Linked DNA regions of Homo sapiens. The protein of the gene in region 1 interacts with the protein of each later gene in a pairwise test. Each region holds a gene or a part of one and is shown on either strand. Other genes may lie near its edges.

Region 1 (2,716 bases):
CTATTCCCCTGTCTAAGGAAATATGCTGATTATCATTCTTTCAGCACTCATTCTTTATAGCAATTAGTCAGGGAATACTATTAACCATTTCTGAGAAATTGTGACCCTCAAAAGAATTTAATTTATAGACAGTACAGGAAATGTAATGAAGTAAACCAAAAATTATAGATGATTATGCAGCAAAAGATTATTGCTGAGGATGGTTTTTACTGTTAGCCTTTGATATACTTTGTTACCACCTTCTTTTAGAAATTAATCAATGGGGATTGACAGATAAAAAAAGAATTATAAAACAAGATCATACTATATATACCTGCAAAAATTTAAGCAATCCACTAATTGTTAGACATTTAATTTATTCCAACTCTTTGCAGGACAGTGAAAATGAATTAGGGGGTAAAAAGTTACAAACACAACAAAATGCTTAAGAGACATAAAAGGTTATCAGACTGGGTCATGACACACTAAAATGTCCAGAGTGTGAAAAATCAAAAAGGAGCTTTTCGTTTTCTACCAAGTAGTAATGTGGAACAGTTTGCTTTGGGCCAGATCCCTTATGAGTGTTTTGGTATTGTTGGGACTTGGTAGTGTGGGTAGAAGCTCTAAAGGTAGAGTTTCATCAAAGAGTATACCTGAGTTTTAAATATGGAGGACAGCTGATGCAGTAGCTTTGTGCCCAGTGATGGAAAGAGTTGAGAGGGACAGGCCACCTTACTACAGAGGAAGCACAGCCTCCTGGCAGAGCATGCAGCCTGGTGCTAGGCTACCTGGGTTCAAATCCCAGCTCTGCCCCATGCCCTTAAAGCAAGTTACTTCTCTATCACTCAGTCTCCCCATCTATTAATATAAGATGGAGATTAATGATGATAATAGTGCCCAGTCACAGGATTGTTATGGGAATTACATGAATTTAATATATGAAAAGCACTTAAAACACAACTTGGAGTGTTCTAAGTGTTAGCTATTGTGCTTTTTCCCCCTTCTCAGCTTGAGTTAGATATAGCAGGATATTCAGCTTCCTTAATGATCAAAGATTTTCTTTATAATTGACACATAAAAATTATATATATTTAAGGTATACATTGTGATGATCTAATATACACTGTAAAATGATTACCACAATCAAGCTAATTAATACATGTCACCCAGTTACCTTTTTTTGTGTGTGGTGAGAACACTTAAAATCTTCTTAGCAAATTTCAAATATGCTATACAGTATTATTAACTGTAGTCACCATGCGGTATATTAGATCCTTAGAATCTGTAAATTATAATAACATAAGTTATTTATCTTATAACTGAAAATATCTACCATTTTTTTTCTTTGAGACAGGGTCTCGCCCTGTCACCCAGGCTGGAGTCTGCAGTGGCGTGATCATGGCTCACTCCCATCTCTACCTCCCAGGCTCAAGCAATCCTCCCACCCCAGCCTCCTGAGTAGCTGAGACTATAGGCGCACACCACCATGCCTGGCTAGGTTTTGTAGTTTTTGTAGAGACGGGTTTTTGCCACGTTGCCCAGGCTAGTCTCAAACTCCTGGGCTCAGGCGATCCACCTACCTTGGCCTCCCAAAGTGTTGGGATCATAGGTGTGAGCCACTGTGCCTGGCCAAAATGTGTACCTTTTGACCAAGATCTCCCCATTTCCTCCATCTTCTGGCTCCTGGCAACCATCATTCTACTCTGCTTTTGAGTATGACTTTTTAGATTCCACAGAAGTGAAATCACATAGTACTTGTTTTTCTGTATCTTGCTTATATCACTTAGCATTAACGTCCATTCATTATCCATGTTTTCACAAATGCCAGGAGTTCCATTGTTTTATGGCTGAAAAATATTCCATTGTGGAATAATATTCCATATATATATATACACACACAGACACACACACACATTTTCTTTATCCATTCATTCACTAATGGACACTTAGGTTGTTTCCATATCTTGGCTATTATGAATAATGCTAAAATGAACATGGGAGTGTAGGTATCACTTCAAGGTACTGATTTCACTTCCTTTAGATTTATACCCTTAAGTGGAATTGCTGGATCAGATGGTAATTCTATTTTTAATTTTTTGAGGAATTTCCGTATTTTCCATAATGTCTGTACTGGTTCACATTCTCAATTTAAATAATAGGGCAGAGAAAGAATATATTATAGAAGTGATTTTTTTTTCAAAGGGGAAAGAGGGACCAGGGACTAGAGAATTTCAGTCCCACTGTAGTAGTACTTCCAGAAATGTCCATATGAAGGATATTTTGTTTTGTTTAGAGAATATCTAACTGTAAAATATAAACATCATTTAGCAAATCTCGCATTTTTTTTACATCTAGGTTTTTCTAAAAAAATGACAGCCTTTTTCTTCCTACCACCATCTTTGAAATATTGCTTATTATATAGTCTTACTACTTTGTCACTCTTTATTATAAGCTGGGCATTCTGTCATTTCTCAAAGCAATTTTTAGGACATAATACCTCATTCTTTATAGTCTGTACTCTTCCTCTCTCCCACTATTTTATATTTTATATATATGTATATATATAAATTTTCTTATTGATAAGCGTCTAAGTTAAGAAAATGCTAGCATAGCTTATTTCAAGCTAATAGTACTTGTTAACTAGAATTTGCTTCTTTAGTCTGTATGTCTGGAACTTTGTTTTTATGAATCTTTATTATTTTTAGGGATCAAGAACAGTGGCTACACTGAATTTTGT
Region 2 (3,826 bases), on another chromosome or scaffold:
TAGAAGAAGACACACGCACAGTCCCAGGGCTGGAAACATGCCTAATGTGTGTGTTAGCTTGAGAGCCTGGGGTTGTAGAGCAGAACTGTTGGCTGCCTTGCCAGGGAAAGGCCCTGCTTTCTCCCTCAGACACCTGCACTGCACCAGGAACTACATCCACCTGAACCTGTTTGCATCCTTCATCCTGCGAGCATTGTCCGTCTTCATCAAGGACGCAGCCCTGAAGTGGATGTATAGCACAGCCGCCCAGCAGCACCAGTGGGATGGGCTCCTCTCCTACCAGGTGTGTGGTGCATCCAGGACCGCCTCAGGAGGGATGGGCGGTTGGAGGAGGCCTGCCTCTGCCACCCTAGACAGGCCTGGGACAGGAGAAGACAAGAGCCGAACAGTCCTGGCCCTTCGGGAGCCCCCAGTCTGATGGGAGAGGCAGTTCGCCTTGGGACCCTCCAGTCTGCTGAGAGAGGCAGTCTACCTTAGGGAGCTCCCAATCTAAGGGAGGAGACACTGCCCTAGGGAATTCTCAGTCTGACACAAAAGAGTAGTCTTTGGAGACACACTTGAGTTTGAATGTCAGCTCTGTCACTTACTATCTGTACACTTTTAGGCAAGTCACTTACTTCTCTGAGGCTGAGAAATAGGTGAGAAGTCACTTACTTCTCACCTGCAGGGGGATACATTACTTTCTTCCAATCAGGATAGTGAGGATTCAATGAGCTAAAGCAGATAAAGTCCTTAGCACTAGCCCTAGCCAGAGATGTGAGCTCTCTCCTCCTGCATTAACCATGGCAGGATAGTGGCTGGAGCAGGACGGGGAGTGGTATCAAGAGAGGCAGAGGGCAGAGCTGTTGTCCCCATGACACCCTTCCTCTACCCCCAGGACTCTCTGAGCTGCCGCCTGGTGTTTCTGCTCATGCAGTACTGTGTGGCGGCCAATTACTACTGGCTCTTGGTGGAGGGCGTGTACCTGTACACACTGCTGGCCTTCTCGGTCTTATCTGAGCAATGGATCTTCAGGCTCTACGTGAGCATAGGCTGGGGTAAGAACCGCCATCACCCACCCTGGACCTGTGGCACGGGGGTGGGAGACCTTGACCCCTCTTCTAACATGGTACTTGGAACGCACTGCTGAGCAAGGGGCAAGGCCCACTGGGTAACCCTCTTCCTGGGCACAGGACCTTCTGCCCCGGTGCTGTTAAGATGCCGTAGGGGGTTATGGTCCTCCCCTCCTCTGCATAACTCTCCTCCCTTAATGGAAGCCTCCACCGCATGTGGCCAAACACCACCCTCTACCACTATCATGCACACCACTGGAGGTCATGGCACTGTTCTCTTAAGACCACATGGGGACATAAGTTCACACCCAGTCCCGGGCAGCCCGAGGGCCTGAGGGAAATGGTGAGTCCTGGGCCTCAAGGTGGGGAGGGGATCAAGAGGGTAGGGGGCTGGCTGGGGGGAGCCTGCTGGTGCTCTGTCACATGACGATGAAGAGGAGGGCTCAGAGGAGAGCCAAGTACAGTGGGGCAGGGGGGCCAGAGGCCAGCCAAGGAAAGGGTGGACGGCGGATGTGCCTGGAGCCCAGCTGGAAATGTTCTAGCCAAAAAAGTTTGCCAAGAACCATTGTGTCTTTTTTTTTGCTGGAACATTTCTGGTTGTGCTTCTGCCTCTCACCACGTGGGATTGTAATGAGGGGCAGCATTGGGGTTGGGAAGGGGGCTGGGATCCCCTTCACCCCTGGGAAAACATGCAACAGGCCTTTCTGGAGGGACCCACGGTACCCAGAGAATAGGCCCTGCCCTCTGTCCTCCCTAATCTGCCATTGAATCCATGAGTTTTCCTGTTCCACACCATCCCCCGCCCTGCTTGCCACTCCTTCATTCACTCCTCCTTCCTTCATGCGCCCACCTCACGCTGCTCTGACCACGGCTGCCCCTGCCACGGACCTCCGGGGACTTTCCAGCTCAGTCACATCCAGACTCCTCTTCCCTGACAATGGTCCTGTCCCTGAGCCTTTGCAAGGCTGTTCTCCATGCAGGAATGTTCAGGGAGCATCCTTCCCACACCAGGGTGTCCGCTGCCTCTTCAGGAAGCTGCCTCAGGCCACCAGTCCTCGTGGTTCTGTGCTCTCTGCCCTCTCAAGCTCTCCATCCCCTGTCCTTGCACTTCATTTATTTTTACTGGTGTTCCTCAGCCATTTTTCTCTATACAGCTCCCCCCACCCCCCAGGAGAAGAGTAGCCTGAGAGATTTTAATGTGACCAGTGTCTTGAGGACACCAAGGCCCAGAGCTGGCAGGGCCTTACAGGCAGAGCAGGCCCTGGAACCCAGGCCTCCTGACTCCCAGGCTCTGGGCCTGCGGCCATCATGCCCTGTTCTCTTGCCTGGGCTGCATCCCTTCAGTCCCCTGCAGCACCCCTGAGCAGGCTCAGGCCTCTGCACAGGTGGGCAGGTAGGCCTGGCTCCTGCTCACAGATCCCTGCTCCTCACCTGCCTCCTCCACTCCCAGAACCCAGTCCCTTCCTTGGCCTTTTCTCCCCGAGGCTTCTTCCTCCTGCTAGAGCAGGAGGAGGGAGGCCATCGAGGGCAGCTCAGGGAAGGCTGTCTTCAGGGTGGGGGACGGTGTCTGTCCATTCTAGGAAATAGCATCAGCGCTGTTAGTGCCTGTCACCATGGCGACCCGAGGGCAGGAACAATCAAGGGACGTGTGTGATGTGTGCAGAGGAGCGGGGGTGGCTGGAGTTTGGTGGGGACACACTGCCCTAGAGGTCTCTGAGTGGGAGATGGGGGAGGGAGTGCCAAGTCCTTTTCCTACCACCTCACACCCTAGCTCAGGGCTCGGGGTCTGTGGGAGCACAAGGGCAAGACCCGGAGGACACCCTGCTCTAATCAGAACACCTTTTTCTTGAGGATTGGGGTGGGGGAGACGGAGAGAGATTCACAGGTTGCTAGGAGCTCAGACGTGATGCCAGGAGGCCTTGCCCAAGCTGGGATACTTGGGAAACAACTTTCAGCTTCATGTGCAAGTGGAAGAATTAAAATTAGGACTCTGACACAGTTGGAGAGGTCCCCCAAAGGGCATGGCAGCTTCTGCTGCAGTCCCCAGGCAGTTGGGGGCCTGTAGAAACCCACATGGAGGCTGTGCAAGAGGGAGGCAAATGATGGTTGAGGGAATCATTACTTCCTGGAGCCAGTTGTGTGTGTCTTAATTTGAGCTTTTTTCTCCAACCTGTCTTGCTCGTTTTCTAAATGGGAGAAAGATGAAGCCAGCAGGGAGTGCGTAATGTTTGCATGCAGCAGGGCTTTCGTGACTGTGTTTTTTGAAAAGGCCTTGTTAAGGAAATGCTGACGATGAGTGAAACTTGCCAGGTCTGGCTGATAACATGGGTGAGTGCCCTGATCCTGGAAGGAGGTCTCAGAGAGAAGGGACAGCAGGGGGCGAGGGATACCCAGAAGGAAGCTTCTGCATGTGTACGTGGTTCAGGAAATCGGCATGCTCTTGCCCAGACAATGTTCCTTCCCTTATTGGTGTGTTGACTCACCCATCATTCGTTCCATTCTCACTGGGCATCTTCTATGTGGCAGGGCCTGTACCATGTGCTGGGGCCTTTGGAGACCATCCCATTCCTTGTCCAGTCTCATAAAGGCCTGTTACTAAAGCACCGTAGATGCTGAGAGGTCCGATTTGTGTAGAAATCAATGGGCCAGGAGAGAGAGAGCTGATGAAGAATGCTGGTCCGCTGGGGGCTCCTTTGCCTCCTCCATCTCTCCCTGCATCATCAGGCACAGTAGATCTGGGCACACAACCTGCTTAGTAGCTGCTGTTGAGTGGA

The links.
Region 2: the proteins of DHRS7 (region 1) and GLP1R interact in a protein complementation assay, tested with the Homo sapiens proteins (one large-scale study listed by BioGRID).

Annotation. Positions count from the first base shown.
Region 1 is NC_000014.9:60,145,845-60,148,560, reverse strand, and holds part of DHRS7 (dehydrogenase/reductase SDR family member 7 isoform 1 precursor), read left to right. Parts: intron 1-339; exon of another isoform or gene 340-2,716. UniProt on the Homo sapiens protein: NADPH-dependent oxidoreductase which catalyzes the reduction of a variety of compounds bearing carbonyl groups including steroids, retinoids and xenobiotics.
Region 2 is NC_000006.12:39,072,733-39,076,558, forward strand, and holds part of GLP1R (glucagon-like peptide 1 receptor precursor), read left to right. Parts: intron 1-129; coding exon 130-283; intron 284-877; coding exon 878-1,037; intron 1,038-1,581; exon of another isoform or gene 1,582-1,649; intron 1,650-3,826.